7 linked regions of the Homo sapiens genome follow. The protein of the gene in region 1 purifies or fractionates together with the protein of each later gene. This does not show direct contact. Each region holds a gene or a part of one and is shown on either strand. Other genes may lie near its edges. The genes, in order: SFRP4, PASK, ITPRID2, B3GALNT2, ANKRD17, ATAD2 and UCK2.

Region 1 (4,452 bases):
CTCAGCAAAAACTACAGCTATGGTAAGTCGTCTGTTAAAGCCATTTACTTTTGAGACTTGGTTCATTACAAAGCTGGAATCTCAATAAGGTCGCTCTCACTAAAGCTAGTCACAAAGTAAAGAAAACAAAAGGTTGACTATTTTTCCAGTTGATCATGTGAATTCTATTAATATATGGCACAATAACAACTGCAAAATATCTTGCTTTTCTGGATGAATCAAGTGCAAACAAAGGAAATGACCCAGGTGATAAAAATTACATGCATCAGATTGAAAATTTGACATCTTGATCCTCCTTGTCTTGGTGAGAAGTGCTTATCAGCCCTGATGGCACACCCCACCTGTTCTCTTCCTGAGGTTTTACTGCTGCAGGAAGAATGAGAGAATGATCCATGGATCTGATTATCTGAGAGTCAGAGAATTAAGGCCCATAGGCCCAGACAATTAAGATCTGCCTGCATATCCTTTTACTTGTGACTAGCTACAAATATTTAACATCTTAAATAAATTGTGAAAAAAATGTTAATCACAAAATCCTATGGTTACACTATCGAACTAGTTTAAATGCCCTCCTCTCTCTTACTTGAAAGAACCATTCAGCATTTTCTTCCATGAATAAGTCAGTCATGAAATTTGAAATGTTTTAAGTAATTTTAATTTCACAATTGTCATCTGAAAGTAAATTTAATTAACATATGTTCTTTTTCAATTCAAAAAGAAATGTAAAAGGCAGACATTTTAAAAATGTCTGTTTGGGCTGCCTACTTTATATTTCATTGCATGTCTTAAATCATTTCTGCTGAAATAACATAAAGTGGTTTTAGGGAAAATGCTTATTTTGTTTGCTGACTTAGTTTTCATCTTGCAGATTGAAATTTTATATCAGTAAGAAACTTTAGGATACATATCAGACATGAAAGTAGGAGGATCACAGAAATGTAGAAATCTGAAAAAAAATAAGCTGTTACAAAACTATCAGATTTAAGAATCATATTTAGCCAATGGGGGTAATTCAGCAACAACAAAAAGTAGTTTATCTTTTCCTGTAGCTTTTTTTCTTAAAGCCTGCTCTATGTAGCTACCATCCTCATCTGATTTACTTAGTCCCTCCTCTGCCAAGATCCAGCCTGAGATATTAATCTGAGTTTCACTGTCATGTCATTCTCTGGGGTGTTATGGCCTTTGAACGACCTTGATGAAGAAACCATTTTGTATTCAAGTCCTTTGGTGTCTTCATAAACTGGCTTCCTGAAATGGAATCCAAGACAGAGCCATATTAGGCTGATTACAACTCTACGGGAGGCAGTAATAGCAAGAGACCACAGAAACCAGCATTTAAAACTTGGTCAGAGACAGTGACATTAACAGCCATCTGTAATAACAGTTCTATCTCTGCTCACCATGGGTCTACTTTGTCAGTCTGTGAAGTTAAAAGATTGAGAACAGTAGTCCTCAGAGACTCCCTCCAGTTCAAAAATGTTATGACTAATGACTATCTCTGTAAAACAGAAGAAGCTCAAGCATCAGATGAGTGATTGAAGAAATGCAAACCTTAAGATGACTTCTGATCTGAATATATATGATCCCCACTTCAAATCACCACAAGGAAGAATACAAATATATGTTTCTGTGAATTTTTTACTGACCTAAAGGCAGAGAAAGACTAAAACCTGCTTTTCAGCTTGCTTTCCTATCTTGCAGTATGCCCCGGAACATTTAAGACAATGTTGACAATATAGGACACCATCCATTTAGCATATGACTGTGTGGGCTGTTTGCCTGCACTCAGGCCACTTGGACATAACCATAATTACAGGAGTGATTCTTTAAGAGAGGCTCAGAAGTTGGCATGAATACACCATCCCTAGTTTTTCCCCAAAACCTTCAACAACACTTTTATCTATTTTTAAATTGCAGTTATTCATGCCAAAATAAAAGCTGTGCAGAGGAGTGGCTGCAATGAGGTCACAACGGTGGTGGATGTAAAAGAGATCTTCAAGTCCTCATCACCCATCCCTCGAACTCAAGTCCCGCTCATTACAAATTCTTCTTGCCAGTGTCCACACATCCTGCCCCATCAAGATGTTCTCATCATGTGTTACGAGTGGCGCTCAAGGTAGGCACAAAGAGGCAGAAGGAACTGTATGCACACTGTTAGGAAGACCTCAATCTCAGTTAGCAGTCATGGTTTAAAAATATAACAAAAATATGCCAAAGTCTTTTTAAAAAAATTAGTTTAACAGATGCCTCTGTTTGAATAGCATATATTCTATCAATTAATTCTTCATAGAATGAAGGAAAAATCAAAATATGAGTATTTGAATAGAGTCTTTAAAAATCAGTTTCAAAATTCATTAAGTGACTTCAAAATTTACAGCAAGTCAATTATTTTAAGGAAGAACAATTCTTTTCAAATCATTCAAACAATTTTAGAGTGGCACATACTGAACTTTTAAGGCCACTTTAATAGCTTACAGATCAAGTAAGTAGGGAGTTGAGACTATAGTTCCACATATTTTCCATATAAACACTTCATAATATTTGATAGAGTATTGCAAACAAACACGCATGCACACACACACACTTTAAGGTGATTTCTGAATCGGATATGTGATTCTCAATTCAAATCATCACAAGGCAATGTATAAACAAATAAATATATGCTTCACACACACTCATACACATACACACAAATTCTAGCTGTGTGTATTTGTCTCCCTGGCCTCTCTTTCTTTCTTATTTTTTTTGGATATTGGTACATTACTTGTAATATAAAGTCAAACTCTTGAGCCCAGCCTCCATGTTGGGCCCCATAAGTTGATGCAGTATACTTCTCCAGCAAAATCACTCAGTTTTACATAACAAGGCATCCCTCCCATTCTCTGCTGTTAATGCTCATCTGTTTCTTCTAGATATAACCTAAGACTATTCCTCTGAAAAGAAACCAAAAACATCTTTGGGAACTAACTCCACTTTTCTGTATTCTATCAGTACTTGGGTGCCCTCCTTACAACATGGATATCACCTTGAGTTCTTGGTTTTAAAGCCAGATTCTGCGTATATCTTGTCTCCCTAAAGAAGCAATCAGTGATTCTGGACTCATCTCTACCAAGGTGTTTGCATCTGCTGCAGTGCTAGAGATCCAGTTGGGGATACCAGGTTGTTGGTCATTACATTCTATCTGGAGAGATGAATGGATTATAATCCATCCCAGTAAAAATAGTTTTGGATAATTGGGATTTATGTCCTCACAAATGATTCTAATAAATTGGTAAGGGTATGTAAAGACAATTCTGAAAATAAGAGAGGAAATCTGCCTTATGAGACCCGCAAACCTGGTGTAAAGTTACACTTGTTAAAACCATGTGATGCAATAGTAGACGTAAAGATAAATGAAACAGAGGAAAAACTCTTGAAACAGGTTTTAATGCATAAAATACAGCTTTTCATTATGAAGGAAATATGGCACATCAATAGAAAATGAATGTATTATTTGGTAAATGTTGAAAATATTCCTATTTGTAAAAAAATACATTCTTTTCACTTTATACTGTGCTTTACAATAACTTTCAAATGGATTAAATAGATAAATATTCTAAGAACTTTAAAAAAAGGACAAAATTAGTGACTAAATATGTTATATCTGAAAAGAAAAGTAATTTGTAAACATAAAAGTAATGTAAGAAATTACAAGGAAAAATATCAATACACATATCTGACTGCATAATATTATACATATAAAAATCACAAATAATGATAGAAAGGCAAATAAAAATTGAGAAACATACTTGAAAAGATATGAAAAAATAGTAATCTTACTAAAGAGTTCATAAAATTAATATTTAAACATTGAGATCATGATATAGAAATATATATACAGAAATTTATATAGAGAAGTTCAAATAGTAATACAAATAGAATACAGATAGTAAGTAAACATTTAAAAAATTATCTCCTTAATTCTAAATCCAAATAAAAATAAGATTCCATTTTCACCTAATTCTTAATGTTAGTGAATTGGATGAAAGTGCAACCATTTTGAAAACAACTTGGCACTATGCATTGAAAATCTTTTTAAAAAATACATACCCTTTAACTCAGTTATTCTATTTTAAAAATCTGTCCTAAGAAAATAATAAGCCAGTGCACACTACTGTATACAGGGTTATTCAATGCAATACTGGTAATCATAGCTAAGCAAAAGGGGAATTCAGCAATAAAGAAATGGATAGATATATTATGGATATCCATATTCATAGTATTATATTATTAACATTATATTTTTAAATTACTCTAATTACATCAGAAAATTTAGATCATATAATGACAAAAGGAAATTTGCAGATCAGCAGATCATCTCAATACACAATGTGATCTAATAAATATAATTAATATTGTTACAAGGAGGAATGAAAGGAAACACCAATAAAATATAAATGGTGGATGTGTGGA
Region 2 (4,452 bases), on another chromosome or scaffold:
CCACTCCCAAGGGCGCTGTGTGCCTCCCAGCCCACCCCTCCCTGCAGTATCCTGGGCACTCTCCACAGGGCCCTCCGCTCTACACCCTCAGACACTCCAGTGCACAAGCTCAGCTCCAACACCCTCCTACTCCAGTGTCGAAGTGCTCCTTGACCTGGAGACCAGACTCCCAGCCACCATTTCCCGCAGCTCTATGCCCCACTTCCCCATTTTCCAGGTCTACCCCAACTTCAAGCACACAGCCTGCTGTCTCCCCAAGTGCCTCCATCAGACAGCCCCTGAAAGGCAAGTGACGCTTCCTTCCTCACCATGGCCCAGTCCTTTGGGGTGCCTGGACAAAGGAGGCACCAACGGAATCTGGACATAGGAGGCACCAACAGACTTCTGCCCCATGATTCTTGGTCCACCAGCTAAACCGCGTTTAGCTCAGTAAACTGCACGAGCAAAGCTGCAATTCCCTAAGTAAAATAGCCTAACCTAGAACAGCGTTCTCACATACTCTAAAGTAAGAAATAACATTTTGTTGTAACTTGACCCTGAAATGTGAAGGTGAGTTCCACCTGCTGCCTGAAAAGAAGCGCCAGCTGCCTGGGAATCACAGCAGAGTAAAAGCAGCAGGAAGGGTCCTGCCGGAGTCATCTGCCAGCATGAGCCGAGCACTTAAACCACGAACTTTTCTCTGCAGGAATAGAGTGACTTCAATCCCTGGTGAGAGGGTTTCCATGAGAACACAGAGCAACTCCACATTTGTATTTCCACGCGCTAAGGCCTGCAGTGGTCGAAGGTCATTACCAGAGAGCGCTGTCCTGCTCTGGCAGAGTCTGGAAAGCCCATTCCTTCTGCTCAGGTGTCTGTGGGCTGAGGAAAACGACCTGCTGGGCTCAGCAGTGGTCTGTGCAGCTGGGCCCTCTGCTGACACTGGCAAGGGGAGGCTCTGGGAAAGGCATCTCTGGTCCTCTTCAAAGGCTGTTAAGCCCCCGTCCTCCATGGGAAGAAGGGAGGCCAACTGCCAAGCTTCCAACTCTAACAACTAGAAAACAACATGAAGCTGATTAACATCTGCAATGCAAAAACACAAAGACAGTTTAACCAACTAATTTATAATGCTGAGTTCAGCTCGGCCCCAAAAGACATACACCACCAACCGCCATCCTGGGTCAGAACCCGCAATGGGAGAATGGTCCACCCAAAGTGGTGCTAAAAGAAGCTCTTTCCGGGCCAGGCACGGTGGCGCACGCCTGTCATCCCAGCACTTTGGGAGGCTGAGGAGGGCGGATCACGAGGTCAGGAGATCGAGGAGATCGAGACCATCCTGACTAACACTGTGAAACTCCGTCTCCACTAAAAATACAAAAAATTAGCCGGGCATGGTGGCGGGTGCCTGTAGTCCCAGCTACTCGGGAGGCTGAGGCAGAAGAATGGTGTGAACCCGGGAGGCAGAGCTTGCAGTGAGCCGAGATCACACCACTGCACTCCAGCCTGGGCGATAGAGAGAGACTCCATGTCAAAAAAAAAGAAAAAAAAAAAGAAGCTCTTTCCAAGAAAAATACATAGGAAGATATGGGAAAGAGGGAAGGAGAGAGAGAGGAAAACAAAGAACAGGGTGGGAAGGAGCCATGAGGGAAGGCAGGGACTGCAGGTACACACCAACTGAAAATACTCCCAGGTCATGATGAACCCATCAGCACGTGGGGGCTGCACAGCTCCCATGGTCTCAGCTTTCCCCTAAACAGTGAGTCCTGACCATCCGACCAGCTGTGCACAGAATCACCTGGGTGCTGCCAACAAGTGAGGTCGCGGGGGCCATGGCCAAGAGGCCATGTCTCCTAGAGACAGGCCTGGCACCAGAGATTTGTATTTTTAGCTTTTCTCTTATACATGATTCAAATGCTGATACAGGGTGGAAATACAGGAAAATCTCACATACTCTTCCGAGTTCCCTCTCATGGTGACATCTTACAGGAGAGTGTCACAGCCAGGAAACTGACTTGATACCATCCATCAGCCTCGTCCAGATTTCAAGGCATTTACCTGCAGGTGTGTGTGTGTGTGGGTGTGCGTGTGTGTCCGTGCGTGTGTGTGCGTGTGCACATGTGTACATGAGCGTGTGTGTGTGCGCGCATGTGAGCACGTGTTCCATGCAGTCTTGTCACATGTATACATTCATGTGACCACCCTGCAGAGTGGAGATACTTAAGAGTTCCATCCTGCATATTGGCAAGCACTTGAAACACAAGTACACATTTACCAATACCCTGTCCTCATGGCCAAACTCAACAAAAAGAGCCCTTAAAGCAAGAAGATTTCCTCTACTGGCAGGAAGCCCCCACCTGGTCATCCAGGCTTTAGATAAACAGCAAGAGGAGGCTGTGGCCAATACCAGAACCATGGCTGGAGTTTCCCCCACGAAATGAGGAGACCCTGGGGCCAAGGCAAGCCCAACCACACCCCATATACCCTCTTCTGGACCACCTTCTGGGTATCCAGAACCCCAGAGTTCCCAGCCAAAGGGTCTGGTGCCCACTTCTAAGACACACACAGGCCTCTTTCCACCCAGGTCCTCCCACACTGGCACACCTATAGCCGTGAACTGGCTGAGGAGCAGCCTTCCAGGAATAGCGAGCTTGGACAAGCTAGCAGGATGCCCACACGAGGCCCTTCCAAGACAAGGCAGGCCTGGGGTGAAGAGGAAAGGGGAGGTGGCCCTCCCAACACCACCTCTTCCAATATGGAACTCCAAGGAGTCCCCCCTCCTTGCCTTATCCTAGCATCTGGTGGCTACTGGCCATACTGGCCATCTTTGGTGTTCTTGACCTGCAGCTGCGTCACTCCAGTCTCCGCCTTCGCCATCACAGAGCTTCTCCCTGTTTGTTTGTTTCTTTTTTTTGAGACAGAGTCTCGCTGTGTCGCCCAGGGTGGAGTGCAGTGGCGCGACTTCGGCTCACTGCAACCTCCGCCTCCCGGGTTCACGCCATTCTCCTGCCTCAGCCTCCCGAGTAGCTGGGACTACAGGCAGCCGCCACCACGCCTGGCTAATTTTTGGTATTTTTAGTAGAGTCAGGGTTTCACCGTGTTAGCCAAGATGGTCTCGATCTCCTGACCTCGTGATCCACCTGCTGCGGCCTCCCAAACTGCTGGGATTACAGGCGTGAGCCACCGCGCCCGGCCGACTTCTCCCTGTTTGTATGTATCTTCACATGGCCATCTTTTTTTTTAACTAGGAGATGAGGTCTCACTATGGTGCCCAGGGCATAAAAGATCTGATCTGTGGAAGTCAAAACACTAAACTTTTTAGCCAGGCAGGTCTCGTGGCCTGCACCTATAGTCCGAGCCACTCTAGAAGCTAAGGCAGGATAATTGCTTGAGCCCAGGGAGATGGAGGCCAGCCTAGGCAACAAAGCGAGACCTGTCAAACCAAATAAAATATAAAATAAAATCACTAAGTTTTTAGGAGAAAAGAGGCTATCTGTAAGACTTTGGGGTAGGGAAAGTTTTCTTAAACAAGGCACAAAAAACTCTAGCTATAAAATAAGATTAATAAGTTTAACGTTAAAATTGAGAACACATCACACCTGTAATCCCAGCACTTTGGGAGGCCGAGGCAAGCAGATCACGAGGTCAAGAGATCAAGACCATCCTGACCAATGTGGTGAAACCCCATCTCTACTAAAAAAAAAAAAATTAGCTGAGCATGGTGGCACACACCTGTATTCCCAGCTACTCTGGAGGCAGAGGCAGGAGAATCGCTTGAACCTGGGAGGTGGAGGTTGTAATGAGCCGAGATGACACCACTGCCCTCCAGCCTGGCGACACAACCTGGCAGGTGGAGGTTGCAATGAGCTGAGATCACGCCACTGCACTCCAGCCTGGCGACACAGCGAGACTCCGTCCCCCCCAAAAAAAAGAAAAAAAAAAATGAGAACACAGCTTCACAAAGAATACCATAAAGAAAACGAAAGAACAAGCCACAATTTGGGAGAAGATATTTGCCACATACATAACCAACAGAAAATTAATATCCAGAATAGCTTTAAAAGATCAACTATTTAAAATTTAAACATTTTTAAAAGACACATGGCCCAATAAAAAATGTCAAGAAATAGGAACAAGCGTTTTACAGGAGAGGAAATCCTAATCATGATGATGTTATACCTACTAAGTCAGCAGAAATGAAGAATCTAGTAATACCCAATGTCAAAAAGGATTTGGATCAACAGGAACTCTTAATACATTAATATAATCTCTTTAGAAAACAATTCAAGTGAAACATTTGTCTATATGGATACAGCACTTTTCACTTAGATTTATATTTCAGAGAAATTTTTGCAAACAGATAAGAAGACACCAGAATGTTCGGGACAATATGGTTCTCAATGGCAAAGAGACAGGCAGAAAAAAGGGAGGGAAGAAAGGGAGGGAGTGCGGGAGAGAGGGAGGAAAAAAGGAAATGAA
Region 3 (4,452 bases), on another chromosome or scaffold:
CCCTGGTCTTGGAGAGGATATGATCAGGAACCCAGGTTGGAGGGATTCGCTTTGAGTTTCCTTTCAGAATGGAGAGAAGGAGGGAATGATGGGGAGAGATACAAGGAAGTTTTTAGATGTTGGGGAAGAATGTTAGGAAGTGTTTGTCCATTTTCTCTATGAGTCAGTGTGTTGTATTGAAAGGAAAGGGGGAGGTTGTTGGAAAGGGAATTTTAGGAAAACAGTGAAGTTCTGAAATAATCTTTGTGAGAAAGTGAGAGGAAGGAGGGATGTGGTTGCTGCTCAGGAGCAATAAAACAATTTTGAGCAACAGCAGGGCCACAACTGCAGTGGAGACAGTGAAATTATAGAAGCACCATGTTGGTTTGGTATTTTGTTAGTGACTCTTCTTACATATATTCTTCATCTTTCCACCTATTTTCTTTTCACAGGTTCAGGAGTCCTTGCAGGCTATGGGGAGTAGTGCTGATAGTTGTGACAGTGAGACAACAGTTACGTCACTTGGTGAAGACCTTGCCACACCAACAGCACAAGACCAGCCTTATTTTAATGAATCAGAGGAGGAGTCTCTTGTCCCTCTTCAGAAGGGACTAGAGAAGGCAGCAGCAGTTGCAGACAAAAGAAAATCAGGTAGCCAGGATTTCCCTCAGTGCAACACCATTGAGAATACAGGAACTAAACAGTCCACCTGTAGTCCAGGGGATCATATCATTGAAATTACTGAAGTGGAAGAGGATTTGTTTCCAGCAGAGACAGTAGAGCTACTGAGGGAAGCAAGTGCTGAAAGTGATGTGGGTAAAAGCAGTGAAAGTGAATTTACTCAGTATACCACACACCATATTCTGAAATCATTGGCTTCTATTGAAGCTAAATGCAGTGATATGAGCTCTGAAAATACAACTGGGCCTCCCTCTTCCATGGACAGAGTTAATACAGCTTTGCAAAGAGCTCAAATGAAGGTTTGCAGTCTGTCTAATCAAAGGATGGGGCGTAGCCTGCTAAAATCAAAAGATTTGTTAAAACAAAGGTACTTATTTGCAAAAGCTGGCTATCCTCTAAGAAGGTCTCAGTCTTTACCAACCACCTTATTGAGCCCAGTAAGGGTTGTGTCCTCTGTCAATGTTCGATTATCTCCAGGAAAAGAGACCAGATGCAGCCCACCTTCCTTCACCTATAAGTACACACCTGAAGAGGAGCAGGAATTGGAAAAGCGGGTGATGGAACATGATGGTCAGTCTTTAGTTAAATCGACCATTTTCATCTCTCCATCATCTGTGAAGAAAGAAGAAGCCCCCCAGAGTGAGGCGCCGCGGGTGGAGGAATGCCATCATGGAAGGACTCCTACCTGTTCACGGCTTGCTCCACCACCAATGTCTCAGTCTACCTGTTCCCTTCATTCCATCCACTCTGAGTGGCAAGAAAGGCCCCTGTGTGAGCACACAAGAACTCTGAGCACTCACAGTGTTCCCAACATATCAGGGGCTACTTGTAGTGCCTTCGCTTCCCCTTTCGGGTGTCCTTACTCACATAGACATGCCACCTACCCTTACCGAGTGTGCTCTGTGAATCCTCCTTCAGCCATAGAAATGCAGTTGCGAAGAGTATTACATGATATTAGAAACTCACTGCAGAATCTTTCACAGGTATGAGAAAAAGTATGTTATCATTAGCTTTTTTCTTTTACTGCTCTGAGCACTTTTTAATTCACAGAGAAGCTAAGGCACATCAAGTATGAACTACCTCAGCTTTATTTTCTGACATGTCTAAACTTAATCTGCATCTGCCTTCGTTTTCTATCTTCCCTCCTGTTTCAAGGGAGAAGCTGTAACTAACCCTGATCAAAGTCGATTTCTCTGCTCACAAGTCTGTCTCCTTTCCAAGAGGAGAGATTTTTCTCGTTAAGTATCCTCCCATTTTTAGTCTATCATCCACTGTCTTTGTTTTAGTCTAGAATCTTTTGTCATTTCTATTATTAAAAAATCTTCCCTCTTAAAGTTCTTTCTCTCTTTCTCTCTGCTATTTGAACATGTTGACTACCTTTTCCTTTTCCAAGTTTTCTCCCTGTTGGCTTCTGTGGCACCACGTTCTCCTGGTTCTGCTCGTAGCTCTCTGACTAAGCTTTCCCCTTCACCTACTGACCCTCGATGCTGTGCACAGAGTTAGTCTACTTCCACTGGACTCAAAGACTGGAACTACTCCAGACCAGAAAATAACAAATCAGGTAAAGTGTGAATTTGATTTAAAATGCTCTGTATGTCTTGTCACTTTTAAAGTCATTCTCAGATTTGTTAGTAGACTGGAAATAATTTTCCCAAAAAAATTTTGAAAATAAGTACGTTGTCTTCAGTTTTGCCTTTTACATTTTCTTGAACATTCTCTCTGAATGAATCATGTTTAGACAATTGAGGGATTGAAGAAAATGACAATGTAATATAGTCATGAGAGCATTCAACAAAGAGTCAGGAGGCCTAGAATGAATGTAATAGACCTCTTATCATGACATAGTAGACAGGGAGCCACTTGGAAAGTAAAAATCAAAGGTGTAACTTCTCAAGTTATAATAAGATATACCTCCTCTTAACTGTAAGTTTTATCCTCATGACAATTGTCCCCTAACAGTTTTCTGTTTAAACAGAATGTGGGTGTTTCTTATTCCTCCTTACAAAATATAGTTCTGTCTGTGATGGAACTTGCAGCTGTGATTATGTCAAGCTGGGGATTTCCAGGACCCTGTCCACCAGTACCGTGGTGCATCTTTCTAGGCCACCTAGTTCTTCTGCTCCAGCTGTGGTCTCTTTCTCCTGGATATCCCAGCAATAACTCAGCTAATACATCTCCCCATGCCTACCCCACCCTACACTAGTGGACAGGTGCTTTCTATGATGTGGTCTCTGACTATCTCTCCAGCCTCATTCCTTAGCTGTAGGATTGTGCACAGGTCTCTAAACAGTTGTGTGTTCTTAGGTATCTGCACATGGCTGATTTTGTGTTTTGTTTTTTTAAAATAAAAAGATGAAGTTTCTGTTTCTCGCCCACGTGGAGTGCTGGAGACAGTGGTGTAATCATGGCTCCCTGCAGTCTTGAACTCCTGGGCTCAAGTGATCCTCCTGCCTTGGCCTCCCAAAGTACTGGGACTATAAGCCACTTTTTTTTAACCGAGATCACCCAGTCTTTGCCTTTCTTTGCATAATCAAGCCCTATTTACTGTTAAGGCTCAGTTCAAGTAGTGTTACCACTTTTGGGAAAGTTCACGTAATCTGAATTTTTCTGTGTTCATCATAGCACTCCTTCCACAGTATTAGAATTTTTTTAAAATTTCCTTTATTTTTCTTTACACTGTGAGAACACCTGAAGGCTGGGAATACCTTTTATGTTTTTATCTCACTGCCTAAAATAGTGGCATATAGGAAATGCTAAGATGTCTGAGAAAGACGACAATGATTGCTTGCTCTCCAGCAAAGTTAATAATCACTATAATCTCATGATGATATTTGCAATGGCTTCTACATTTTTGCGTTTTGATTTTGTTTTTTTTTAGTTTCGCAAGAGGGAAGTCCTGAAAGAAATAGATGTGAACTATGTTCCTTCGCCTCCTCCTCCCACGTAGATTGACTTATACCTGGAACAGCTAGCAGTACTAGGTGTCATTGGGAACTGATTTCTTTTTTCCTGCTTACAATATGAAGGTTTTTTGGATCCTTTTGTCTTAAAGAGAAAAATATATAGGCCCCAAATTCTGCCTTTTAACCCCTTAAGTGATTTGGAAGTATTCACTTTAACATTGGTTTTAATCCTACTTTTACTTTTTTGAAGTACCCTATGATGAGAGGACCTGATCCTGCTGCTGCTCCATATAGTACTCAGAAATCATCTGTTCTACCTCTTTATGAAGTAAGTTCTTTCTTACATCTTTGTGTTCCAAAATAATTTGTAGAATTTAGAAGTGTAATTTTGTTATATTGCATTCTAGAATACTTTTCAGGAGCTCCAGGTAATGAGGCGGAGCCTGAATTTGTTTAGAACACAAATGATGGATTTAGAATTGGCAATGCTGCGTCAGCAAACCATGGTTTATCATCATATGACTGAGGAGGAGAGGTAAAAGTTCATTTTGTCTTAGCACACCTCAAAAAGCTTTTCATTCAAAGTCTTCTCAACTTATATTTTTTAAAATTAGGTTTTGATTCTACTGCTGTGTACCTTGTATCTGTTTTGTGAACCAGTGTAGATAAGATTAGTCATAGATAGTGTTTTACTAAGTAAACTTGTATGCCTTCAATATCCTAAGGGTAGTGGTAACCTGCTTTCCCGTGTTTGAGATATTTGTGAGAGGATAGGGGAAGAAAGACTAATGTCCTTGTGGATACACCTATTGTAGTTGATATTGTACTAATTTCTAGAACCTGAGATTTCCATGCCTTCTGTTAGCATATAGTAGTTGTTGAAAGATTT
Region 4 (4,452 bases), on another chromosome or scaffold:
TTTTAGGAAGTTGATAAGTTTTTAACTGTCTGTGTTTATTAGCAATTCCCATTATGTTCAGCTGTGTTTCTAAGGGAGGTTATACTTCCAAGTCTTAAATATGCTGATTAGGACTTCTGGTATTTTAAGGTTTGTTAAAACTGTATAATTAAGTAACACCTCACTTTTATAAGCAGTCTCCATGGCTCTCAATCCAAGCTTTGCCATTTTCTAGCTGTGTGACCTCCTCTGCCTCAGTTTTATCATCTGTAAACTTGGGATAAAAGAATCTCCCTCATGGGGATTGACATAAGGATGAAATAAGTTGATACATATGATGTATTTAGAATAATAGTTCCTAGAAGGTGGAAGGTACTGAACATTATTTTAAAGAGCCTGCTATTTTATAAAGCTGGGTTTCAAACAGCTTTTTAAATAAATTGGACAATATATTCAGGTCTGTATTACAAAATAGAGGTTTCTTACTTAGGATGTCTGTGAATTCAGTTAACATTGTAAGCAAATTTTATGTATGAATTGTGTGCTGGGGAGAAAGTCCTTTGGCTTTCACTGGAGTCTTGTCTTTTTTTTTTTTTTGGAGACAGAGTTTCGCTCTTGTCACCCAGACTGGAGTGCAATGGCGCGATCTCGGCTCACTGCAACCTCCACCTCCCAGGTTCAAGCGATTCTCCTGCCTTAGTCTCCCGAGTAGCTAGAATTACAGGTGCCCGCCACCACGCCTGACTTATTTTTAGTAGAGATGGGGTTTCACCACATTGGCCAGGCTAGTCTCAAACTCCTGACCTCACGTGATCCACCCCCCTCAGCCTCCCAAAGTGCTGGGATTATAGGCGTGAGCCACCACGCCTGGCCTCACTGGAGTCTTAAAGGGATCATAAACCCCATAGAATGTTATGTCACTGATGTGGTATCCACTGATGTATCCTCCAACAAATTACAATTGAAAACCAAACCAAAACAAAAAGAAGCCCTTCACTTTTAAATTAACCATATTTTTATTATCTTAAGTGCTGTTATTTATTAAAAGTAAAGAAGTAGAACTTTATGTTAAAAGAACATTTTCATATATGTAATACCTAGGTTATGAATTTTTAAATGCGTATATAACTAAGTTAATATTGAACCTAATCTTATCTTTTCGATGATCCAAAGGCAGTTATGGTTATTTCAGTACCTGAAGGTCATGGTAAGCATTAATCATCGTGATACTGTGGCTGTGGTAGAAGGTTTAATAGCACTGTAATGCAACGGGATTTCCTGTGTCCACGTAACTTGAAGCTCAAGGCACAATTCTTTTAGATAAGAAAATATCTAAAAATGCTATATTATAATTGACTTATTGCTTTTAATAAAGAGGTTTCTACTATGGATATCTGTTATTTACTGAATATCTTAAAGAGAAAAAATTGTATTGTTGTCCATTATGTTGTAGTCTAGACTCTCCAGTTAGTGCTTGCCCAGCCCATGACAAAAAACTGTATTCTCCCTTTTTTCCCTCCTGTTCATGTCTATAATTAGGTAGGAGTCATCACTTCCCTTTAATCCCATTTTACTGAATATCTACTGAGTGTAAAGAGCTTCTAGGAAGTCTGACGTGGGCAACCAAATGACCTAGAGTATAGGAAGAAAATGTAATTTCTTTTTTTTTGAGACAGGGTCTTGCTCTGTTGCCCAGGCTGCACTGCAGTGGCACAATCTCAGGTCACTGCAGCCTCTTCCTCCCAGGCTCAAGCAATTCTCGTGCCTCAGCCTCCCAAGTAGGTGGGATTACAGGTGTGTGCCACCACGCCCAGCTAATTTTTGTATCGTAGAGACAGAGTTTCACCATGTTGCCCAGGCTTAGAATTTCTATTTATCTGAAAATAAGAAAATACAATCTTTATTAATACTGAATATATAGACTCACCACAATATATGCATATATTTTGTAAGTAAATAGGTGTGTGTACAAATATTTTTAACTGATGGTGTTGTGTAGTCAGCAAAATTTGAAAACCACAGCTCTAAAAGATACAAAGAACTTTGATATAATCTTTTAAAATAGGGTTTTATATTATTAAAGTAGCACTGATATTCCCTGCCTATGAACTGCTTTATTTAATGTATTCTGATTCATTTATGGTAATTAGAAAATTTATTTGAAGGCTGGGCACAGTGGCTCATGCCTGTAATCCCAGCACTTTGGGAGGCTGAGGCGGGAGGATTGCAGTTCAAGACCAGCCTGGGTAACATGATGAGACCCCCATCTCTACAAAAAATTAGCAAGGCCTGGTGGTGTGTGCCTGCGGTCCCAGCTACTCAGGAGGCTGAGGCAGGAGGATCCCTTGAGCAAAGGAGGTTGAGACTGCAATAAGCCATGTTCATGCCACTGCACTGCAGCCTGGGTGACTGGGTGACTGTCTCAAAAAAAGAAATAAAAGAAAAATTATTTGAACTGTTTTGGCACTGATTAGACAGCTGTGAGGGAGTGGAAAGGGGACTGACTTTGGAATCACTAAATGGGACTTGATTCCTGGATCTGCCACTTTCTATGACCTTAGGTGAATTGCTTAATTTTGGGCCTCAGTTTCTTAATATGTAAACTGGAGATAATGCCACAACCACAAGGGTAGTAGTGAAGATATAAATGTGATGGGAAATGGTACATAGAAGATGGTTCAAAACTGTGTTTGATATGCTTATCTTTTATCAGTGCTGTACAGCAAGAGTTTTTCAGTGTTATTTGAAGTGACTTCAGTTGCTTATTTATACCGTAATAATTGCCTGATGTATCACAAGTATTTTAAATTGCCTAACAAGAAGTAGGATTTTTGGAATTTGCACAGTAAGACCAAATTTACTGATTATTTATGACTACAGTCAGTACTGTTTTTCTTATTTCTATTTATCCAACCCTTCCAAATAGATGCCTTCCAGTTGACTTAAATTTAATATCTCCTGTGGCGTTTATACATATATATGCACACATTTATGCAAAAAGCTATTAAAGCAGTTCTGATAATTAACTTACTTAGATGTGGCTGAAAACTTTATTCTTAAATTTCAAAAATGTTTATATAGAAGCAGCCATTTTTCTCAAGCATTTTTTAAAAATTCCTGCCATTTGTGAATTATATAGCAAATGATTACCTAGGTTTTGGCATTAAGCCCACTTCACTACTTCTTACTAGTAAAACAAAGGATTACATTTGTTCAGTTATATAAACCTGTTCTCATTACTTAGTTTTGAATCAGGAAATTGAAGCGTTCAGTCTGTCCGAAGACACTTCATCGGGGCTGCCTGAGGATCGAGTTGTCAGCGTGAGTTTCCGAGTTCTCTACCCCATCGTTATTACCAGTCTTGGAGTGTTCTACGATGCCAATGATGTGGGTTTCCAGAGGAACATCACTGTCAAACTTTATCAGGCAGAACAAGAGGTATGCACTGCTCTGTACAGGTTTTTTCTCTTTTTTCTTTTTCAAAAACATCAACTTTTCCTTGTGACATACAGTAAGTAGATTGGAAGACTATATAATTCTCTCTGGTTGAGAGACTTTCACCTTTCTTCCCCTATTGACTAAATACACTGTAGTGTGATATAAGACTGGTTTGGGGATAGATTATCTGTGAATAAATGTGCTATATCTAGAAGAGAAGGAGTTGACTAGATTAGAAATCTCCAACCTAAAATTCCCTAAAACCTAGGGAATTTCAAAAGTTGGTAATGGATATAAAAAAAGTTTAGGATTCTTAGGATAAGTGAGTATTATTGCCTCTTACTTCCAACTGTAGAAGTCTGTAATACAAGGCTAATAACTGCTTCAAATCTTTTTTGTAATAAGGATATAGAGGGAATAAAAGTTATTCTTTTACAGAAAACAGAAAACCAGTGAGGTTTCTCTATTCCCGATATGTAGGGAAATCTGATTTGTTCACAGAGTGCATGTGAAGTAGCAGCATGGAAATGTATTTGAAGGATCTGTTTTTTAGTTTTAAACATGAAGAAAACTTGAAGGAATTATTCAGTAAACCCTATAGCCACTAACTACATTCTACAACAATTAACGTTTTCCTGTATTTGGTTTATTACTCCTAAGTAGCTGGGATTCTAGGTGCATGCCACCACACCTGGCTAATTTTTGTATTTTTAGTAAAGATGGGATTTTGCCATGTGGGCTAGGCTGGTGTCAAACTCCTGACCTCAAGTGATCTGCCCTTCTCGGCCTCCCAGAGTGCTGCCTCAGCCTCCCAAGTAGCCTCCCAAAGTGCTGGGATTACAGGCGTGAGGCACCGCACCAGGCCTGGTGTGCTTTTTCTTTGTCTGTTTTATTCAGGGCGTGCTACATGTTTCTTCAATCTGTAAATGTATGTATTTTACCAAATTTGGGGGATTTTCAACTATTAATGTCTTCAGAACCTTTTCTGACTTCGCTCGCTCTCTCTATTCCTCCTGGGATTCCAGTTACATGTAT
Region 5 (4,452 bases), on another chromosome or scaffold:
GTCAAGTATGGAAAAATTATGAAGGTCCTCATTAAATCCACATTTTTTAACCCATTAAATTATCCTTATAAAAATTCAGATAAACTACTGTCATAAATGCAACTGCACTGCCTCAAGGACCTAAAAACTGTTTTCCTAATCAACTAGATGGCATAATCAGGTAACAGCAGAAACAGATAGTCTAGTGAATTTCCGAGAGTCAAAATATGCTACTTTGATGCTTATTAAACACTGAAAACTTTCACAATACTAACTCCAGTTAAGTTGGTGAGGTTAAAAATGACTAAACTAAAAATAATGGTTCAATTAAAACATCCCACAGGGATCTACTGTAAATAATAGCTGCAACCAAGTTCTGTTACCTCAAGACTTGAAGTCCCAAAGATTTCCCACAGTAGGTGGCTAATAAAGAAATATTTATGAGTTATTCTTACTACAGAGATGGGACTTCATGAGAACCTAGCAGAGATACAAAGACTTACATAAGACACATGGTACTGTATAGCAGGAGATATACAGATGAGTAAGACAAGGCTTTTGCTTTCAGATATGACAGTCCACAGCACACAATGTAAACTGCTTCATTAATTAAAGGGCAAAACATGAAGATATAAGAGAAAAGAGAGTAGGCATAAGGCTGGTTTACCAGAAAGATGTGATCAATCTTGGACCCACTATTTCACAAATAAGCCTTCTTTGTTACCACATCATCTGCTTAGTTAGAAGCAGTTTCCAAACTCTTAATAATCCAAATAAATGACCAAATTCCCCACTAAATCTGTAGTGAGAATGTTTCAAAGTAACAAGGTAGGAGGGAGAGGGTGGGGGTCACAGAACTCTTTGAGGATCTAATGAAAATCCTGCACATATGGGGCTAGAGCAGAAAGGAAGAAAAATAAAGCCTTATAAGCACCTTCAACAAAATCTTTTGTTTAATATCAGAGGATTCACAGCCTAGCCAGACCCCAAGTTAACAATCTCTATTTAAAAGAAACATTTTTTTTTTCAAATTAATAAGGAGAGATTACCTTGAAAAGTAAATATTTTGAAAGGCAAGGAATAAGTGGTAAATCGCCTCTAGAAAGGGTGGTTTTTCAGTATGAAGTTTTCATCTTGTTAACAACTTAATTCTAGGTGGTGGGAATATGGATTATTTTTCTATACTTTTCTGTATTTCTTGCTTTCTTTTTCTTTAGTGAGTTTTTCAGAAGAACTGGAAAGAAAACTTGGGGTGACCAACTTGTCTTCAATGGCCGTCCAACTGCAAAAAAGCGTCTCCCCTTATACAAGCCGAATGTGCCAATATCTGAAATATGGTACTCAACACCATACAGCATAACAGAGCATGTGAATGAGTGAGAGAATAAATGAATGAATGAGGAGGCGTAGAATCTAACAGTCCCAGGTTCAATCCCATTCTGACATTTATTAGCTATGTGACCCTGATGAGGTTGCCTAAAATCCTTCTATGCCAGTATGTTTACCTGTAAAATGAATGCTCCCTGCCAACATTTGTATACTTTGAAACTCACACATTATTCAAGATGTACATTTAACCACTTAAGCTCACTCTCACACCTCCCCAAACTTATAATATTTATTCATTGGTGTATTTTTAAATCAAGGTGACTTACAAGTTTTGTTCACCATTGCTCACGCAGTACAGCACAATACCTAGCACATAGTAGGAACTCCAAACATTTATTGAATAATGAAAGAAATATAGCAGCACCTACTTCATAGGGTTATGGCAAGAATAAAATGAGAATACGAGAAAATTGTATTAACTCATTTAACTCTCATAACAATGTTATAAGGTAGAATCTACTATCATTACCATTTATACCATTTACATGAGGAAATTGCAGTAGAGATTTAAAAACTCGGCCAAGGTCACAATGCTAGTAAATGATGGATCAAGGATTTAAATCCAAGCTCCAAAATCCATACTTTTAACCTTTACCTAGACTTCACAAACAGTAGGTACTGAATAAGTATTCATTTTTATTTACTCTTTAAAAATTTTAGGAGGCTTAAGGTACTTACCAGGCATTCATCAATTCCTATTAGTTTAACTGGCTCTCCCCTTAATACTTAGAGAAGATCATCATCACTACGAAAAGGAATTAAGAAATTGGAAAATGTTGAAATCTGAACTTCAGCTATTCAGAAGCCCTGGATCCAAGAAGGGAAGAATTTCCATTCCTTCTCTTCTTTCCCTAAATGAATGCTGAATCCTCCCTAAGTACTAGTTATTCACTAAAAATGTTTTGTTTTTTTCTAGTACTGTGCTTAAGCAGGAGAGAAGACAAGATAAATTATAATTAAGACAGACTACTGCTTCAAAGATCTTAAAATCTAGTTTACAAATACTGCTACATCAATTAAGAGATGAAACAAGCAAGCTTCTCTGGGCTAATCTAGGATTCTAAGCATTACAAAAAAGGAATTTAGATAGCACTTTTCCAATAAAAAACAAACAAGAATATTTCCAAATGAAGCTGAACACAGCCTAATTCTGAAATATTTTTTCTTTCTCCCTCATTTTCAACTCTCTTTTTCTGTCTGTAAACAGATCCTCCCTGGCCTTGCAAATCCTTTCAATACTAAGTCAGTACTAATTTATTTACCGGCTCCCTTTGTCTAAAATTTCTTCACTAGGTTTATCTCTTGATTTAGTCACAGGTTACTTACAAAAACAGATGAAATTCTGATCAACTCCTACTGTATTTATACTTTAAGCATCTTCAACAAAAATGTTTCTCCCCCTTTGAATTCTGCCTTAGAAAATACTAAGATTGCAGTGCGCAGTGTGGCTCAGACCTGTAATCTCAGCACTCTGGGAGGCTGAGGCCAGTGGATCACCTGAGGTCAGGAGTTCAAGACTACCCTGGCCAACATGGTGAAACCCTGTCTCTAATAAAAATACAAAAATTAGCCAGGCCTGGTGGCGGATGCCTGTAATTCCAGCTACTCGGGAAGCTGAGGCAGGAAAATCATTTGAACCCGGGAGGTGGAAGTTGCAGTGAGCCGAGATCAGACTGTTGCACTCCAGCCTGGGCAACAAGAGCGAAACTCCGTCTCCAAAAAAAAAAAAAGAAAGAAAAAATACTAAGATCATTCAGTCATATTCAAAAATGCATTCAATAGAATGCAATGTTATTTCTAAAATAAAGTATCAACTCTTGAAATTATAAGATTTTTTTCTTGTAATAGTCAAAAGCAATTTAATTAATTTTGTCCACTAATTTGAAAGAGCATCATGGCTTTTATGTTAGAAAATATATTTGTATTTTCCATATTGGTCAGTCACTCACTGAAAACCAAGAAAATTATGCATTTTCAATTTTAAATGTAAGATTTTGTGTCAAATAGATGGGGAGAGGGAGGCAAGTAGCTCTTGGTCTTATTTGTTTCCAGGTATACCCGAAGTTATGCAAATTATCTAAGACGTGATTACCCTATTCTGAAATACTTTAAAGTAAAATCCTATTCTCAATAACCTACTCCAATGTCTAGAAATTATATTCTTATTGTTCAACAATTAAATGAAGCTCTTATTTGAATTGATTCTCGTTTCCTTCCATTTTTCCTCTTTTGGCAGATACAGAGATTATTCAGATAGCATTTCTTTATAGCAAAGCTATGTATTTTTGTTAAATTAAAGTTATCCTTTCAGGTTAAATACCACAAAACCATAACCTTTCACATTCCTTTTTAATCTTTTGATGATTTTTACTGGAAGGATAATTTTAAAGATCATTTTATCTACTTTTTTTTATTGTGTAGCCTATAACAGAATGAATTAGAGAAAAGACAACACTGTGATTTTAGCCACAAGACTTCCTAGCTCCAGAAAGTTAGGCTTCTGCTGACATGTCAGTAAAATGGTAATTAAGAGAAAAACATTACACAACTCACCCATTTAGCTTACAGTTTTATTTGTCTTTACTTTGATCAAAAGATGAAGATGGGGCAGAGACAATCTGTACTCCTTTTTGTCTGCTCATCCCTCATCTGTATAGATTTTTTAAATGGGTACACTTTTTTTTTTTTGAGACAGAGTCTCGTTCTTGTTGCCCAGGCTGGACTGCAATGGTGCAATCTCAGCTCACTGCAACCTCCACCTCCCGGGTTCAAGCAATTCTCCTGCCTCAGCCTCCCAAGTAGCTGAGATTACAGGCATCTGCCACCACACTCGGCTAATTTTTTTGTATTTTTAGTAGAGATGGGGTTTCACCATGTTGGCCAGGCTGGTCTCAAACTCCTGACCTCAGGTGATCCGCCCGCCTCGGTCTCCCAAAGTGCTGGGATTACAGGCGTGAGCTACCACGCCCGGCCAATGGGCACACTTTCTTACACGTATTTCTCCTGACTCATCTTCATAAATGACAAACCCATTGTTTAACACCATGTAAAAGACAGGATAAGGTATGTTAAAAACATAGAAAT
Region 6 (4,452 bases), on another chromosome or scaffold:
AATGTAATCTGAATAGCATTTATTATTATAGTTGTAAAAAATTAAATTGTTTTTATTCATAGGCTCGAAAAGAGATTCTAAAGATTCACACCAGGGATTGGAATCCCAAACCACTGGACACATTTTTAGAAGAGCTAGCAGAAAACTGTGTTGGTAAACATTGTTTTAAGCAGTTAAAATAAATACTACATTTATTTCAAATATGAAACAAGTTATATTAGGTTGGTGCAAAAGTAATTGTGGTTTTTGCCTGTAAAAGTAATGGCAAAAACCACAGTTTCTTTTGCACCAGACTAATAAAGAAATACAAGGTTATATTTGTTTCTTATCTCTTATTTGTGGCATTTTCTTCTCATGAAGTCTTGGTATTAAATAGAGATATTTGACAAATTGGCCATCAGGGGCAGAGTAGATAATAATATAATTGTACAAAATACAATATATTATTATATCATAATAAGATAATAGCTATTCTTTACTGACCATTTTGTAGTCATCCTTTTAAGCATTTTACATATATTATTTCATGTAATTTTCACATCATTCCTGTGATGTAGGTAGCAGTATCTCTACAGATGAAGAAATGGCTGGAGAGCATTATGTGAATCTTCTAAGGTCATACAGCTAGTAAATTACAAACTGGAATGTGAATCTAGTCTGTGTGATTTTAAAACTCTTGCTTTTGACCTCTGTGCTATACTTAGTGCTTGTGTATTGCACTCTTAAAAGTTGATTGATTGTTGATGGCCATTACTACCCTATAAGTTTACTGGGTAAAAGAGATTTTGGTCTTATTACTCTTAAATATTTGCTAACTATATTCCGAGGCTGATTTTTAATTTTTTTTTTAACCATGGTCATGCTAATAGAGTTTTGTGTTTCTTTGTTTGGTCGGCTGGTTCTTTTCTTCCCCTGGTTGCTTTGGATAGGATACTGTGGAGCAGATATTAAATCAATATGTGCTGAAGCTGCTTTATGTGCTTTACGACGACGCTACCCACAGATCTATACCACTAGTGAGAAACTGCAGTTGGATCTCTCTTCAATTAATATCTCAGCTAAGGATTTCGAGGTAGCTATGCAAAAGATGATACCAGCCTCCCAAAGAGCTGTGACATCACCTGGGCAGGCACTGTCCACCGTTGTGAAACCACTCCTGCAAAACACTGTTGACAAGATTTTAGAAGCCCTGCAGAGAGTATTTCCACATGCAGAATTCAGAACAAATAAAACATTAGACTCAGGTATAAAACTTGATTGACCATTTAAAGTTAGTTTTTATAATCAGTAAAGTGAAATGTTTCATACATACCAGAAATATTTATTTGTAAAAGAATCTCTTGAAAAGAATTTGGTAATGCTTTACCTGGGATATTTGAAGGAAATTTACTCCATGGATTGCCCTTAATTTAACTTATTGTAAGTTTGGGGTGCATTTTTACATTTACTTATTAATTCATATCTACACAAATATTTTTGATTCTTTGAAAAAATTTAATTGAAGTATGCTGACTTGGTAACTGAAGCAATAAAGATTTGCTTTGCAATCCAAAAGTTACTAATGTACAATTTTTTGGTTTTATAGATATTTCTTGTCCTCTGCTAGAAAGTGACTTGGCTTACAGTGATGATGATGTTCCATCAGTTTATGAAAATGGACTTTCTCAGAAATCTTCTCATAAGGCAAAAGACAATTTTAATTTTCTTCATTTGAATAGGTATATTTTTCTTGCAAATCAATGTTTTTTGCATGTGTAAATTTTCTAAAAATAAATGAGATGTGGTTGAAAAAATAAAAAGTGCTAACCAATCTGCTTTTTATTTAAATTAAACTACCAGAAATTTTTTGTTGTTACAGTTGTCACAACAGTAGAAATTACAGTCTATAAAAATATTCCTAAAAACCTTTGGGGGTCAGTTTCCAGAAACTATGTGAACCATGTTATGATTGGTTGGCCTTATTGGCAAGACTTTTTACTTATGAAAGTTTATAGTTGACAATTTAGGGGGAAAATTTAAACTGTTTTTTCTAAAACATAGCTTATTAATCATTTCTCTTTCAGAAATGCTTGTTACCAACCTATGTCTTTTCGACCAAGAATATTGATAGTAGGAGAACCAGGATTTGGGCAAGGTTCTCACTTGGCACCAGCTGTCATTCATGCTTTGGAAAAGTTTACTGTATATACATTAGACATTCCTGTTCTTTTTGGAGTTAGTACTACATCCCCTGAAGAAACATGTGCCCAGGTAATTTGTTGGTGCCCAAGTATAAGACAAAACAGGCTTTCAGAGGCAAAAGCTAAAATTGCCCCATTTTTTTGTATTGTGTTTTTTTGTCTTTCTGATTTGTAACTTTAGGTTTACAAAACAGAGTTATGCATGATTGCTTAGTCATTAAAGAGAATGACTTTAAATCCCACATTCACCCTTAATATCTTTGTGACCTTAGTAAAGTTGTTAGATCTCTCTAATTTTCCCCTTTTGGAAAATGGAGATAATACTACTTACCTCACATGGCTGTTGTGAGAATTAAATGAGTAAAGTACTTAAAATGGTGACTGCTCCTTAGTAAGTACTCAGATATTCTGCAGTTTCTGTTTTTGGTATTTGTATATTAACTTTTTTTTGTTTGTTTTTGGTTTTGGTTTTTTTGAGACGGAGTCTTACTGTGTCACCAGGCTGGAGTGCAGTGGCACGATCCTGGCTCCCTGCAACCTCCGCCTTCCGGGTTCAAGCAATTCTCCTGCCTTAGCCTCCCGAGTAGCTGGGACTACAGGTGCAATGCATGCCGCCACACCCAGCTAATTTTTTTTTTTTTTTTTTTTTGTATTTTAATAGAGACGGGGTTTCACCATGTTGCCCAGGATGGTCTCAAACTCCTGGGCTCAGGCAGTCCACCCGCCTTGGCCTCCCAAAGTGCGTGGATTATAGGCATGAGCCACCGCGCCTGGCTATATTAACATTTTTAAAACATAAAAATATTTTATATTTGTAGTTTTGTTTACTTTTGATTACCACAATAGAAAAATCTTCTAGATTTCTCCAGCTGTTTTCTAGTTGCTTGAAGAAATTATCTTTTTCCAAAAAAATGAAACTTTTAATCCACATTTAAAAATAAGGTTGTGGGATTTTGGAGAAGCATTTTAAAAACTTGAGGACTTTATATGTTACTCCTGGGAGGTTAAACATTGTTTCAGACTAATAGAACTAGCATTATTAACGTGCTGACTCTAACTGAATTTGTTTTGTTCTCTCTCTACTAGGTGATTCGTGAAGCTAAGAGAACAGCACCAAGTATAGTGTATGTTCCTCATATCCACGTGTGGTGGGAAATAGTTGGACCGACACTTAAAGCCACATTTACCACATTATTACAGAATATTCCTTCATTTGCTCCAGTTTTACTACTTGCAACTTCTGACAAACCCCATTCCGCTTTGCCAGAAGAGGTAATTTATGTGGGGCGGTATCATTATACTTTCAAAAAGAGTTGTTTCTACCACAATAATCATAACTTATTGAAAAAATTCAAATGCTGTAGAAGTGAATAAAAGGATAAGTTTTCTTATCAAATATACCATTGGTAACTATTTGGTATATGTGCTCATTGGGCAAGATGGTATATGTATATGTGTATGTATATATTAAGGATACATAAATTTTTTCTCTTGAAAAATGGTATTATATGCCGGGTGCAGTGGCTCACGCCTGTAATCCCAGCACTTTGGGAGGCCGAGGTGGGTGGATCATGAGGTCAGGAGATTGAGACCATCCTGGCTAACAGGGTGAAACCCTGTCCCTACTAAAAATACAAAAAAAATTAGCTGGACGTGGTGGCTGGCGCCTGCAGTCCCAGCTACTCGGGAGACTGAAGCAGGAGAATGGCATGAACCCTGGAGGCAGAGCTTGCAGTGAGCCGAGTGAGCCACTGCACTCCAGCCTGGGCGACAGAGCGAGACTCTGTCTCAAAAAAAAAAAAAAAAAAAAAGTATTTAAAAAATGGGAGTATATGATACATACTATTCTGCAATTTGCTTTATTCATTTATCAATAAATGTATTCATGTATTTGTTAGTGCTAAAGTCTCTTTAAGAGCTGCATGGTTTTTCCACTGTTGATGTACTATAATTTATTTATCCAAAGCCCTATTGATAGGTTTTTTGGTTGTTTTCCAGATTTTTTTCTACTGGACTCTTACAGTGAGCATCCTTGTATTTTAGTTAGTATGAGCACTGGTATGTGGATTTTTCTAGTTTTGATTCCTAGAAGTGGAATAGCTGTAGCTGAATCAAAGAGTATTTTACATTTACAAGTTTTAACAATATTAAATTACTCATTCAAGTTTGTGCCAATTTAGACAACTGCCAATAGTGAACAAAAGGCCATACTGCTTCTGCCTGGAATACTCTTCTCTTACATACTTGCCTGTCATCATTTTTTATTTTTCTC
Region 7 (4,452 bases), on another chromosome or scaffold:
TCAAACCCTGGTTATTGGTGGATTATTTCTCTTTCTTTTCTTTTTTTCTCTCTTATTTTTTTAGAGATAGAGTCTTGCTCTGTTGCCCAGGCTGGAGTGCAGTGGCATGATCATGGCTCACTGCAGCCTTGATCTCCTGGGCTCAAGCAGTCCTCCTGCCTTAGCCTGCCACACGTAGCTGGGACTACAGGCACAAACACCATGCCTAGATAATTTCTGAATTTGTGTAGAGGTGGGGTCTCACAGTGTTGCCCACCCTGGGCTTGAACTCCTGGGCTCAAGTGATCCTCCTGCCCTAGCTTCTCAAGTCACTGGGATTATAGGTGCACGCCACTGTGCCCAGCTGAATTATTCTTAAGGAACAAGATGACACCTCAGAGCTCCATTTCATCCTTTTGAAGAGAGGGGCAGGATTAGGCAAAAGGAGAACACAGAGATGATAGTGAAAGAGATACAGAGGTGAGTGTTAAGTAAGCGAAAGAGCATTTATTCAGGGCAGAGTAGAGTCTCTTTGTGGGACTCCTCCTTCCCTCCCTGCCTTCTTCCCTACCAGGTAAAAATTCAAACCTACACAACAATAGAGAGGATGATATAACCAAACCCTATGTACATGTCAGCCAGATTCAACAGTTATCCGGATTTTTTAGGGCCCATTTGTAATATGGCCCAGGAGGAAGAAAATGCCTGAACAATCTAGATTAACCTAGAGGCAGGTGTTTCTTTGCTTATTTGTGCAATTTTATTTATCTCCTTCCTGATAAAGGGCTTCTTCTGCCTTGGGACTTCTTACTATCTAAGGTTGAGGTAAAGAGCCAGGACTCTATGAAACCACATTACTTAACTTGGTTTCCTCATCCATGTAGGAGAGCACATGTGGCTTCTAAAGGTGGTCATAATGGAGTGTTTGGCACAGGGACTGCTGCCTAATAAGTAATCATTTACACTGTTAGCAGTGGTAGTGTGTTTGTGGAAGGGAAGGGTCACCAGCCAGGTCCTTGAAAACACAGGACTGAAACATGCAGCGGGGGATCAACACAATTAGTCATACTGTATCATTGATCAAGGGTTGGGATGAGCGCTGATTTTCTAGAATTGCACCTACTGTATGTTCATTATCCCATTTTACTGGCCATTGTACAGGTTCTGTCCTAGATTGTGCTGGGTTAAGGGAAACAGTAGTTTATCTGCAAAATTAGGTAGTGTAACTTTTTAATATGCTTTTTTGATGGTGATGGGATTGCTATTTACATTAAAAACATTTTATGGGTTTTAAATATAAATAAAAATATCACAATTTGAATAACTAGATAATATACATTTGGCTTCGTGAATCACTTTTTTGTTTTTGTTCTTTGGAATTCTAGGAGGAATTCTATCTACTAATAAAGGCTGCAGACTTTATCTTCCTACAACCTTAGGACGTAAGAAACGTCCTAAGATAGATGCCTGGGAGGAAAAGGAAATTGAGGGCCTACAGGTGTTTAAAAACCTATAGTTTATAATTGCTTAGAGCCTTTGATTTCCCCCCCCACCCATCCATCTGTAGCACCCAGAGAGCCTTGGTTTTGTAACATTTTCACTTTTGAATCTAGTTTATCATATGAAAGTTTTACTGTTCTGTGATATTTTGGGGCATGGGAGGATCTGTGGTCCCAAAGTCCAGAGTAGTTTTAAATGTTTTTCTGTGTTAATATGCAAAAGTATCATGAAGGCGAAATAAATTGTTTGCAAATAATTGAGTCAAAATATTATTGTTCCTCCAAAGATCCTTACTTAGTCGTGTGTCACAGCTTGTATAACAGGACGTATTTTGCAGAGCTGTTTAGTTTGCACTGACTTGTGCAACAGGAATGGCCAGTTTTCCTTACGCTCAGGGCAATCAAACACAACTTTATAAGAATTGTAACTTTAAAAGATTTCATATTTTTGTTGTTGTTGTTGTTAAAATCGTTGATGAAATAAATTCAATAGTAAAACTTCTAAGATTTGAGTCATCAAACCTCTAAATATGCTGTTTTTCTGTTCTGTTCTGTTCTGTTCTTTTCTCTTTTTTCTTTTTTTTTGATGCAGTCTCACTCTGTTGCCCAGGTTGGAGTACATGGCACGATCTCAGCTGACTGCAACCTTTGTGTCTTGGGTTCAGGCGATTTTCCTGGCTCAGCCTCCCGAGTAGCTGGGACTACAGGCATGTGCCACCATGCCTGGCTAATTTTTGTATTTTTAGTAGAGGCAGGGTTTCACCATGTTGGCCAGGCTAGTCTCAAACTGACTTCAGGTGATCCACCCACCTTGGCCTCTTAAACTGTGGGATTATAGGTGTGAGCTACCCTGCCTGGCCTAAATATGCTGTTTTTCCTTTCTATTTATTCGGTTGACCAGTTTCTTTCTTCTTCTTTTTTTTTTTTTTTTTTTTTTTTGAGATGGGGTCTCACTGTGTTGCCCAGGCTGGTCTCGAATTCCTGACCTCAAGCAATCCACCCCCTTCAGCCTCCCAAAGTTATGGGATTACAGGCATGGGCCACCGTGCCCGGCAGGTCAATCAGTTTCATTAGAAGACTTGGGTTATGTCTCCTACAGCTTGTGTAATACAGACATTTTTATTTTTACATTAGTCTTTGTATGAAATGAAAAAAGAAATCAGTTATTTGATAAATACAATCCTTCACTATCTCATTCTATTGAATGCACTTGTTTCATAATGTTCCTTTTACGAAGAGTATATTGAAGGGAAAAAGGGGCAGACACATGTATTACTATCTGTTTTTCTTTTTTTTAAATTTTAGGATACATGTATTACTAACAACAACACACAAAGCATGTAGGTTTGAGTTCATTTGGAGTTGGCTTCTCCACTCTTGTTTGGGATACTCCTAAGTTGTTTTAGATGTTGGTGGTGTTTGTGTTCCTTGTCACCCTGTCTGTGGTGACACACGTTTGTGAAAAGGCCACCTGGTTTACTGTAGATGTGAAGTCATGGCTGTGGACTGGAGCAAAAGTAACCAACAGAAGTAGGATTAACGCTGTGAGCATAGCCTTCTTGCTAACTAGCTGAGCTCTCTGGCCATGGTTTTTGGTTCCGTTGATATAAAGAGATGTGCAGGGGCTGAGTGGCATTCCATGGATGTGCAGTCACCTTGTGATTCCAAGGCCCTGTAGCCCCTCAGCACATCATCACCATGCCTTCATTCTACTTTCTGCTGCCTTTTTTGTCTGTCTATACCAGGGCACAAGCAGACAGGATCAGGTAGCCCTACCTTTATCAGTGGCTCTGGGAAAGGCTCTTCTGGAGGAGGAGGTGGTGTGTGCTGCCCTCCTTCCCCCACCATCACTGCAAGTACCTGACAGTAGTAAGCTGTGTTAAGGGAAGGGAGGAAGGAACTTTGGGGATCCTAAGACTTCTCTGTCACAGGCGTGTAAGGCGGACTCTTCTCCGTTAGCCTTTTTTTTTTTTTTTTTTTAATTTAACTTTTAAGTTCAGGGGTTTGTTACATAGGTAAACTTGTGTCACAGAGGTTTGTTATACAGATTATTTCATCACCCAGGTATTAAGCCTAGTACCCATTAGTTATTTTTCCTTATCCTCTGCTTCCTCCCACCCGCCACCTCCAGCAGGCCCCAGTGTGTGTTGTTCCCCTCCCTGTGTCCATGCATTCTCATCATTTAGCTCCCACTTACAAGTGGGAACATGCAGTATTTGGTTTTCTGTTCCTGTGTTAGTTTGCTAAGGATAGTGTCCTCTAGCTCCATCCATGTTCCCACATGAGACGTGATCTTATTCTTTTTATGGCTGCATCCCTTAGCCCTTTAACTCATCATGCACGATAGCTGCCTTTGGATTCTTCCTTCCAGAGCCCCTTCTTGGAAGGTGTGCATCAGCTTGGTTACTCTCGGGACTTCCTCTGTACCACACGTGCCCTTTCTCTTATTCCTGGGTGCTCTCTTCTCTCCTCACAGTCTTCCGTGTGTGCTAAGATCGTGCAGCTCCTGGGGCAGAATGAGGTGGACTATCGCCAGAAGCAGGTGGTCATCCTGAGCCAGGATAGCTTCTACCGTGTCCTTACCTCGGAGCAGAAGGCCAAAGCCCTGAAGGGCCAGTTCAACTTTGACCACCCGGGTGAGTCGGGCATTGAAGGGGGTATGTATCTGTATTGGTGTGTTGGGGGGAATAGTTTTATTTTGCTCATGAGGAAGTTGCTTAACCTCTCGGAATCTTGTTTCTATCTAGAACGTAGGGACTTGATAACTACCTTGCAGTGTTATTGTGGGGCTTATGTGAAAGAAGGAATTTTCAAATGCTTCAAGTAGTGCTTGGCTCATTAAATACTGATTGAATCTGTATCTGAACAAAGGTGATTTTGTATGAGCCTGGGACTCAAGATGGGCCAGACATGAGGTCGAACATACAGAGCTAGTCCTGCTGCCTCTGATCTGAGGCAGCCCTCGTCAGACCCT

The links.
Region 2: the proteins of SFRP4 (region 1) and PASK purify together in Homo sapiens (affinity purification with mass spectrometry; 2 studies listed by BioGRID and IntAct, with this or other methods). This does not show direct contact.
Region 3: the proteins of SFRP4 (region 1) and ITPRID2 purify together in Homo sapiens (co-immunoprecipitation; one large-scale study listed by IntAct). This does not show direct contact.
Region 4: the proteins of SFRP4 (region 1) and B3GALNT2 purify together in Homo sapiens (affinity purification with mass spectrometry; 2 studies listed by BioGRID and IntAct, with this or other methods). This does not show direct contact.
Region 5: the proteins of SFRP4 (region 1) and ANKRD17 purify together in Homo sapiens (affinity purification with mass spectrometry; 3 studies listed by BioGRID and IntAct, with this or other methods). This does not show direct contact.
Region 6: the proteins of SFRP4 (region 1) and ATAD2 purify together in Homo sapiens (co-immunoprecipitation; one large-scale study listed by IntAct). This does not show direct contact.
Region 7: the proteins of SFRP4 (region 1) and UCK2 purify together in Homo sapiens (co-immunoprecipitation; one large-scale study listed by IntAct). This does not show direct contact.

Annotation. Positions count from the first base shown.
Region 1 is NC_000007.14:37,909,783-37,914,234, reverse strand, and holds part of SFRP4 (secreted frizzled-related protein 4 precursor), read left to right. Parts: coding exon 1-22; intron 23-1,917; coding exon 1,918-2,116; intron 2,117-4,452.
Region 2 is NC_000002.12:241,142,045-241,146,496, forward strand, and holds part of PASK (PAS domain-containing serine/threonine-protein kinase), read right to left. Parts: intron 1,031-4,452; coding exon of another isoform or gene 989-1,030; coding exon 793-988; intron 1-792. UniProt on the Homo sapiens protein: Serine/threonine-protein kinase involved in energy homeostasis and protein translation. Phosphorylates EEF1A1, GYS1, PDX1 and RPS6.
Region 3 is NC_000002.12:181,914,785-181,919,236, forward strand, and holds part of ITPRID2 (protein ITPRID2), read left to right. Parts: intron 1-431; coding exon 432-1,643; exon of another isoform or gene 1,644-1,815; coding exon of another isoform or gene 1,816-1,902; exon of another isoform or gene 1,903-2,053; coding exon of another isoform or gene 2,054-2,113; exon of another isoform or gene 2,114-2,221; intron 2,222-3,538; exon of another isoform or gene 3,539-3,686; intron 3,687-3,813; coding exon 3,814-3,891; intron 3,892-3,970; coding exon 3,971-4,098; intron 4,099-4,452.
Region 4 is NC_000001.11:235,483,287-235,487,738, reverse strand, and holds part of B3GALNT2 (UDP-GalNAc:beta-1,3-N-acetylgalactosaminyltransferase 2), read left to right. Parts: intron 1-3,223; coding exon 3,224-3,417; intron 3,418-4,452. UniProt on the Homo sapiens protein: Beta-1,3-N-acetylgalactosaminyltransferase that synthesizes a unique carbohydrate structure, GalNAc-beta-1-3GlcNAc, on N- and O-glycans. Has no galactose nor galactosaminyl transferase activity toward any acceptor substrate.
Region 5 is NC_000004.12:73,251,685-73,256,136, forward strand, and holds part of ANKRD17 (ankyrin repeat domain-containing protein 17), read right to left. Parts: intron 1-4,452.
Region 6 is NC_000008.11:123,343,884-123,348,335, reverse strand, and holds part of ATAD2 (ATPase family AAA domain-containing protein 2), read left to right. Parts: intron 1-62; coding exon 63-153; intron 154-205; exon of another isoform or gene 206-302; intron 303-929; coding exon 930-1,244; intron 1,245-1,585; coding exon 1,586-1,718; intron 1,719-2,063; coding exon 2,064-2,250; intron 2,251-3,266; coding exon 3,267-3,452; intron 3,453-4,452. UniProt on the Homo sapiens protein: May be a transcriptional coactivator of the nuclear receptor ESR1 required to induce the expression of a subset of estradiol target genes, such as CCND1, MYC and E2F1.
Region 7 is NC_000001.11:165,886,250-165,890,701, forward strand, and holds part of UCK2 (uridine-cytidine kinase 2), read left to right. Parts: intron 1-3,954; coding exon 3,955-4,114; intron 4,115-4,452. UniProt on the Homo sapiens protein: Phosphorylates uridine and cytidine to uridine monophosphate and cytidine monophosphate. Does not phosphorylate deoxyribonucleosides or purine ribonucleosides. Can use ATP or GTP as a phosphate donor.